Homo sapiens: one gene and its partner. The protein of the gene in region 2 purifies or fractionates together with the protein of the main gene of each other region. This does not show direct contact. Each region holds a gene or a part of one and is shown on either strand. Other genes may lie near its edges.

Region 1 (3,674 bases), on a different chromosome or scaffold from region 2:
CCTCAAAAAAAAAAAAAAAGGATTATTCATGAGGCAGAGAGCTTATAGTGGCCCATTTTTTTTCTTCCAGAAATAGCATCCCAAAACCTGACTTTACCATAGTATTAAGAAAAAGGTTTGTAGGTAGATAAATGTTTATATTTTTATTTTTATCAGTATTTATCTTGATAAGAGAGAAAACATAATGAAAGAAGTACCGGAGAGTATTTTAAATAGCACCATCATAGACATAAATACAGTCTTGTTATAGCTTTGAAAATGGGAAAAGCAGGAGAAAAAGTGTTTGATATCAGTTTAACAATTAATTAATAAAAAGTTTTCTGGAGTCTATAGTATTTAACGTTTTACAGCTATATTTCACTTTGTTTCTTTACTTACCTTGGGCTGCAATCATTTTCATGAAGAGATTCTCATTTACTAAGTATACTTTGCAGTTCTTTTACAGTATGATCATAGTTCTTCATAGATGTAATATGTGTAAATATATATACATGCAAAATACATATACTTTGATTTTCTTTAATTATCTTTAGTTAATAACTTGTTCTAAATTTGAACATTGTTAATTTTTAAAGTGGAAAATTTGGTCTTATAATTATTATAAAAATTCATCTACAGTTTTGTGGCTCATATGTCAGATAATCTTACATTATAGTTATGTATACAAAATAATTTTAGGCTATTAGAGGTTCATATTTATTTTTATATATCAACAGGGTTCTATACTATTTCTCTTCAGGGAGAAAAATATTTGAACTCACAACCTATTTATAAATCCTGTCTCCTTTCTGGCTTCTTTAGTTATTCAAGTTCAAAGGACATACCACATCTTTTAGGAGAGGCACCAGAGCACTTAGAGTACTAAATAATATCACAGGGGCTTCTACAAAGATGTGCTTTATTTCTATAGGATATCATATTAGTCCCTTTTCACGCTGCTGATAAAGACATACCCGAGACAGGGCAATCTACTTACAGTTCCATGTGGCTGGGGAAGCCTCGTAATCGTGGTGAAAGGCAAGGAGGATCAAGTCCCATTTTACATGGATGGCAGCAGTCAAAGAAACAATGAGGAAGCTGCAAAAGCAGAAACCCCTGATAAACCATCAGATCTCGTGAGACTTATTTACTACCACCAGAACAGTATGGGGGAAGCCACCCCCATGATTGAATTATCTCCCACCAGGTCTCTCCCACAACACGTGGGAATTGTGGGACTACCATTCAAGATGAGATTTGGGTGGGGACACAGGGCCAAACCATATCAGATATATAACAGTGTATACAGGGCCCACATTTGTTTTGTTTTTAATATATATAATATTCAAATAAACTGCCTTTAAGAGTTAACTACATTTTCTAAAACAAGGGCTATAAATATGTTAAATATAACTTCAGATATTTACTGAGATATATTGGGTTCATATTTGATTTGTGTATAGTTTTACAGTTTTTTTGTTTGTTTTTTTGTTTTTGTTTTTGTTTTTTTGAGATGGAGTCTCGCTCTGTTACCCAGGCTGGAGTGCAGTGGCACGGTCTCAGCTCACTGCAGCCTCTGTCTCCCGGGTTCAAGTGATTCTCCTGCCTCAGCCTCCCAAGTAGCTGGGATTACAGGCATGCGGCACCACGCCCAGCTAATTTTTTATATTTTTAGTAGAAATGGGGTTTCAGCATGTTAGCGAGGCTGGTCTTGAACTCCTGACCTCAGATGATTCGCCTGCCTCGGCCTCCCAAAGTGTTGTGATTACAGGCATGAGCCTAGTTTTACCGTTTTTAAATTTTAGTTTTATTCTTAGGTAATTCAGAAAATATTTTAGGGAAAATATATTATTGATGAAAAATAAGATGTACTATGGTTATTTTTCATGACTTTCGACTGAAAATACTTAGATTTTTGTGTGAAATTTCCAGTATTTAAATTGGCAGTGATAAGGCAGTTTCGAATCTTTTTAGAGCTCTACAGTAGTCGCATCTGCCCAGCAAGTGAAGACAACGCAAACTTCAAATGCTCCTGATGTAAATGATGCAATTGTGAAACTATTCAATGATTTTGATGTTAAGGAAACCTCCCATCATTTAGTGATTTCTCATCTAGATCTACACATATGTGATGACATTCATGCTAAAGAAAAAGGTAAAATAACTTGCTTATTTCAAACTATTTTGGTTTTTCTAGAATTGACTACAAAACTGGATTGTTTATTAAATCTGTTGTGTAGGATGTCCTGTAAGATAATTTGTCATAATTGTGTTCATATGAATATATAGATGAAAGGCACAACTGGAAGCATATATTGGTATGAAATTTTATTTTGCTTTAGCAGTACTTAAGCTTAATTATTTGTTAGCTATCAATGCTAACAATAAAATTAGCTTTAAAAAAATCAGACTGAATAGATGATCCTCTAGGAGGATGATGAAATATTAGACTCGCCTTTGAATTAACTTTTTGATAATGTTGAAATTGTCTCCAAATTAAATTTTAGTCCATACTTAATTCATAATTATTTGTAGATGTGTTTTCAGCATTGCAGTTTTTCTACCTATTTTGAATAGAAGCACAACTGTGCAACTATTTAACATATTTTATGGCCACCTCTCTTCCCATCCTTCCAAAATTTGATTAGGAAGCAAAATTCCAGTTAGGAATTTTCTTTTAGTTTTTGTCCCTGTTATTTTTCCTTATTTAGTAGATGTAGTTCTGTAATCTAGGCGCTGGGCGTTTTTGTTTCTCTGCTGGAGAGCATCCCTGGCCCAGAAGTGTTGGGGTTGAGTTCAGCAGGTAGGCCTACCTTAAGGACTATAATTCTCAAACTTTGGTGAGCATTAGAATCAGGCTGAAGACCTTTAAACAATAGAGTTATCTGATCTCTGTGCCTCAGATCTGAATCAGGATCTATATCTACAAAAATTTTTGCCATGTGTTTTTAAGCTGAGAAAGTGAATATTGAGACCCTGGATACTTAGCAGTAGAAGTTACCCTGCCTTCATTAGACAAGGCAGCCTAAAAGATTCCAGCCTAAAAGGTTGGAGGGGCAAAGGTGAGGAAGATTCGGGGTTTGTGGAGGGATTTGTTATCTTTTGTTCTGACTACCATTGTGTCATTTGACTTATAGTTGGCATCTTTTACTTTAGAGATTTGAAAGGAAAATCCAAAAAAGTTAGAACAAACCAAACTAAGAAAATGAGGTGGTCAAGATTAAGTAGTAAGAATGAGAATGGAGAAAGTGTTTTCTAAGGCCTTACATTCCTCACTATTCCCTGATAGAATAAATTGAATGATTTTATTTAGGAAGAAAACCTTTTCACCAAAATATCTCCTTAATAGTACAGGTCTGTAATCACTATTGTGAAATCCAAAAGGCTCTGAAATATTATAAGTTTGTGAAAAACTCATTTGGTGGCAAAACCTGACTTATGCCAATACTTTTTTTTATTCTTTGCCTGCTTCCTATAAATATTTATGTTTTGCTGCAGAATTGCTATTTTTATTAGTGCTGCCTCAGAACCTGCTGAGAGTGTTGCATGGTATATCCTGTATATACCGTATCATATTACTGTCGTGAAATCTAAACATTTCTGAATTCTGAAACATTTGGCTTTCCAAAGGTTTTACGTAAGGGATTGTAGACCTGTGCTGAAAATTCTACTAGTTGAGATAAATTGGATTTTAC
Region 2 (5,462 bases):
GATACCATTTCATTTAAAAATGTACATATGATTAAAATGAATTCCAAAACCTCTAACAACAGAGTTCTAAAATGAATTGAAAGTAGTTGCTTATAATTGCTTTTTGAATGATGAATAAAGAGGATCCATAGAGATGTCATGAAAAGTATGTTACTAGCCAGGTGCGGTGGCTCCCGCCTGTAATACCAGCACTGGGAGACTGAGGCAGGAGGACTGCTTGAGGCCAGGAGTTCCAAAAGTATGTTTCTAGAATACCCGAAGGTAGCAAAAAAGTGGAAAAAAAAAGTGTTTAGACTCTTGGGGAAAAAAGAGCAGGAGGAAGGCATCAAAAATCTTATCTATCTGCTTTAAGTACTGAGTTGTGATCTCTTCGTGTCTTGCTTTCTCATCAGATTAGGTGTTTTCCAAAGCTAAGGATTATGCCTTCCTCCTGGGCCACAGTACTGATAATGAGAGTAGGCTGGAGTAATCAAGAAAGTTAACTTTTAAAACAGAACTCAGTGGTTCTCAGATATGAGTATGCCTGAGAATCAAGGGGGAGCTCAGGAGTAATGCAGATTCCTAAGCCTTGCCTGCCTCTCTCAGAGAGGTTGATTTAGGGGACTTCCATGGAAGCCAGGAGTTGCCTCTTTTTTTTTTTTTTTAAATTTTAAAAACAAGCATCCAGTAATTTTGATGCAAGAGGACTGTGGAGCACCTTGGACACTGACATGACCACAGGATTGGGAGCTAAAATAACCACACCTGTGTTCTAGAACAAAAAGTTCCCCTCTGATTTTCAGTGATCAAAGAGCCCCAGGAATTTGACTCAATGATTGTAAGTTGACCTTTCCTTCAAAGTTGTACAGAGAAAACCCTGTGAATGACCAGATCATAGGGAGCAATTTCTGTAAAAATTATAGACATGAAAAGATTTTTGAGAAATTACCTCATCTGTCACCAGCCTTGATGCTGAGTGACATCAAATCTGTTTTATATGGATGAAAATTTATTCCTATTTTAAAAGACAAGTAGTAAAGAATATTCTCTTGATGTAACCAACCTTAGCTAGGCAGCAGAGCTGCATGCTGATGGAAAAATCACATTTTTTTTTTCCTCCTAACAAGGTTTAGTCTGTCCCCAGGCTGAAACAGAAAAAGTGGCTTCTGTGACTAAGAAACATAACATTAAAAATATGCAGTGTTGATGGTAGAAAAGGGGGCTTTTAATATGGAGAATTTTTATTCTGGTTTTTTATTTTTTCATTTTAGATTTATGCATAAATTAAATAAAACTTTAAAGATTTTGGTTTTGCAGGCAAATATAATCTTATGTTTATAACTTCTGCCACTTACCTTAGAAATGAGCATAAAGCCATTGATTTGTATTCTTGCCCACTCATGTTAAACTCTAAAGGTCTAGGAAGGAACCCAATTTTGTTTACACCAAAATCCCTTTTCCCTCTACTCTGTAGAAGGAAGTCATCTCGTGCACTCTGCTGTTCAGCCTCATTTATTTCCTTCAGAGCACAGCACATAAAGTACTGTTTGTTTCCTTGTTGCTGTTCTCCTTCACCATCCAACTGTAAGTCGTATGAGGAAGGGACTACAGTTTCCCTCACCACTGCATCCTCAGTTCTCACAGTACTTGGAACATAAGAGGCATTCAATAAATGGAAATTTTTGTCAAGGATTTCTTTTTCTTTTTTTTTTTTTTTTTTGAGATGGAGTTCTGCTCTGTCCCCCAGGCTGGAGTGAAGTGGTACGATCTCAACTCACTGCAACCTCCGCCTCCCAGGTTTAAGCAATTCTCCTGCCTCAGCCTCCCAGGTAGCTGGGATTACAGGCATGCACCACCACACCTGGCTAATTTTTGTATTTTTAGTAGAGACGGGGTTTCACCATGTTGGCCAGGCTGTGTCAAGGAATTCTTTATGTCACGGTGCAAGGTGGAGGAAAGGCCAAGCAGGTTGGATCTGGAGGGCTAAGTTTTAGTCTATTTCTTTGCCTGTTTCTGCATCTAGAAATGGAAATTTTATCTGCTTTACCTTTAGGGTAAAAATGAGATCATGAATAAACATGTTTAACATAAATTATACAAATGCTTTGTGGTATAATTTTGAAAACCAGGGTTTGCTTGAATTTGAGATGGGAAATTTTATTAGAGTATCATAACTGTTTTAAAGTTAACCTCTTAATAAGACATTCATTCTAGTTTTTAATGCAATTGTGGCACAAATTTTCTTTGTACCTTTACTGGAAAGTAGGTATTTAAAAATGTTATCATTGGAGGGATTCACTTTTAGGAAATTGTAGGGTGAAACCACGGTTTCAGTTAATCCTCCCCAAAATGAAAATGCCTTAGGGTAAGTTCACAGATAATTGTTATTTTCTACGTGTAAATGTGCCACTTAACTACCTTAGTCCCTTATTAAGATTTTGATAAATACTATGGTTTTCATAATTAGTGTAATTTGTCTTAGAAATTTGAAACTCAACATTGTATAGAAGGAAAAAGTAAATCCTTAATATGTAGAATTTCTATTTTGTTTTTTAATTTTCTGTTTCAGATTAATGGTTTTAAGAAGTACAGCTTTACTTTTGCAAAGGTTTTGGTTCTACAGGGAAATTATAATCTTATGTTTGTTTATAACTTCTGCTATTTGATTTAGAAATGGGCAAGATGTCATTAACTTGCATTCTTTTTCCCTCAAGGTAAACTGAAGGTCAAAGAAAGGACAACATTTTGTTTAAATCAGAATTCTCTTCATGTACTTTCTAGCAATAGATAGATAGATCCATAAAGATTTGTTTATGTTCGTATGAGAAGTTTGAACTTTTTTCTTAGCAAGAACATTTTCATAAGATATATTTTCCATGATTAGAGTATAAATAATGCTGGGAAAAGACAAATTTGGTTGTTGTGAACAGTTATTACACAAAATCCATTAGTTCTGAAACCTTTATTAAATTTTATCACCTATCAGAAGTAGTTGTTTAGAAACCGGCTTGTTAATGGAGAATCAATGAAGTTGCACTTAGTTCTGGCTACAGCTTTGAGGGACCTGACTGTGGACACTGCCATTTAGTGGCCTCCACATACGTATGTGTGACTGAGTTGGTAGTGACTCTCTCTAGTTATTTGGTACCTAGCTCCCATATTCCATACTTAAAAGTGTTTATTTTAATACTTTTCTGTAATTAGTGAAGATACAAGGATTGCTGCTACATTTATGAAGTATGTTTCAATACAAGTTTTTATTACTTTTGGAAAAATATATTTCTAAAACTAACATATCATAATTTTTACTGAGTTAAATGCCATATATCTTTCAGAGGATCATAAAACAGGAGTTGGGGCAGTCATTTGGGCAGAAGGGAAATCTGTAAGTATGAAAACAATTCTTTAAATATTTAACCTGGATTTTGTTTAAACATAGTTCAGTCTTCGGTGCATTACAGGTTACTGACTGCCAAGGCGGGCAGATCACAAGGTCAGGAGATTGAGACCATCCTGGCTAACACAATGAAACCCCATCTCTACTAAAAAAAAAAAAAATACAAAAATTAGCTGGGCGTGGTGGCGGGTGCCTGTAGTCCCAGCTACTCGGGAGGCTGAGACAGGAGAATGGTGTGAACCCGGGAGGCCGAGCTTGCTGTGAGCAGAGATCGTGCCACTGCACTCCAGCCTGGGTGACAGAGCGAGACTCCGTCTCAAAAAAAAAAAAATATTAATATTTTTGTAATGGTGCATTTATGAAGATCTATAAAGATTTGCTCATCCCTCAACAGTTTTCTAGATAGACGCATTCATTCAGCAAACATTTGTTAAACACTCTCTACAGGTTAGGCACTGTGCCACAGTGAATGCTGGGGATTAAAGATCACATTTTATGGCCTCATAGTTTAGTGATGGAGATGTAGAAGTAAAATATAACTGATATGTAAGTGTAATTATAACTGATATCATGAGAACATAGAGGAGGAACCTTTGCTTGGAAAAATAAGTAAATACTGTTGGTGAATATTATTAATGTTACTAATATAATATTCTTGAAGAATAAGATAATTTCTTCAGACAGAGCAAGTCAATAGGACCAGGAGGATAACATGAATATTCTTGGTGAACATTCTTTTTTTTTTTTTTTTGAGACAGAGTCCCCCTCTGTCACCCAGGCTGGAGTGCAGTGGTGCAATCTTGGCTCACTGCAACCTCTGCCTCCTGGATTCAAGTGATTCTCATGCCTCAGCCTCTTGAATAGCTGGGACTATAGGCATGTACCACCACACCTGGCTCATTTTTGTATTTTTAGTAGAGATGGGATTTTGCCATGTTGACCAGGCTGGTCTTGAACTCCTGGCCTCAAGCAGTCCACCCTCTTCTGCCTCCCAAAGTGCTGGGATCACAGGTGTGAGCCACCATGCCTGCCCTGAATATTCTTAATATTAATATTAATAATGTTAAAATTCTTGAAGATTAGGAGGATATCATCAGGCAGAGCAAGTTAATGGGACCAGGAGAATAACACACAGAGACTGGGGTGAGAGAGAGAATATGGGAAAACGCATTTGATTTGGCACATAGAGTAAGCAACAAAGTGGACGGGACCATGAAGAACTCTATATTCCATGTAAAGATTTTGGACTTTATCCTGGCAGTGACATACTATAGCACAGCACTAACCAGTAGAGAGAAAAGGCAAGGCTCAAACTGAATTTTAAATTTTCTAGGTGTTATATATATATATATATATATATATATATATATATATAGAGAGAGAGAGAGAGAGAGAGAGAGAGAGAGAGAGAGAGAGAGAGAGAGAGAGAGAGAGAGAGAGAGAGTCTCACTCTGTTGCCAGGCTGGAGTGCAGTGGTGCAGTCTGAGCTCACTGCAACCTCTGCCTCCTGGGTTCAAGCAATTCTCCTGTCTCAGCCTCCCCAGTAGCTGGGACTACAGGTGTGTGCCACCACACCCAGCTAATTTTTGTGTTTTTAGTAGAGATGGGGTTTCACCATGTTGTCCAGAATGGTCTCAATCTCTTGACTTCGTGATCCACCTGCCTTGGCCTCCCAAAGTGCTGGGATTACAGGTGTGAACCACTGCAACCAGCTGGAGCCATGTTTTTAAAAGGAAGACAGATAAATTAATTTTAAGAAAATATTTAATCATGTAATCAATAAAAAATTATTGATGAAATATTCTGCATTTAAAAAATATTAAATCTTCAAAATTCTATGTGTATTTTACACCTGCAGCACCTCTCAATCTAGACTAACCACATGTGGCTAGTGGCGACTGTATGGGACAGTGCATTCCAAGAATGTTCTAAGTGGGGAAATGATTTGATCAGATTTGCATTATAAATAGAATGAGGTAGGGCTAGACAGAAAATAAGGAGATTAATAAAAAGAGATGAGGACTTGGAGATGTGGGGATGGGTTAGGAGGCTAGAATCAAGAGATATTTAGTAACTATATAGCTGA

The links. The genes of interacting proteins can lie anywhere in the genome.
Region 1: the proteins of CDADC1 (region 2) and BLTP3B purify together in Homo sapiens (affinity purification with mass spectrometry, with the first as the bait; one large-scale study listed by BioGRID). This does not show direct contact.

Annotation. Positions count from the first base shown.
Region 1 is NC_000012.12:100,087,375-100,091,048, reverse strand, and holds part of BLTP3B (bridge-like lipid transfer protein family member 3B), read left to right. Parts: intron 1-1,953; coding exon 1,954-2,134; intron 2,135-3,674. UniProt on the Homo sapiens protein: Tube-forming lipid transport protein which mediates the transfer of lipids between membranes at organelle contact sites. Required for retrograde traffic of vesicle clusters in the early endocytic pathway to the Golgi complex.
Region 2 is NC_000013.11:49,270,977-49,276,438, forward strand, and holds part of CDADC1 (cytidine and dCMP deaminase domain-containing protein 1), read left to right. Parts: intron 1-3,314; coding exon 3,315-3,364; intron 3,365-5,462. UniProt on the Homo sapiens protein: Catalyzes the deamination of cytidine and deoxycytidine into uridine and deoxyuridine, respectively. May play an important role in testicular development and spermatogenesis.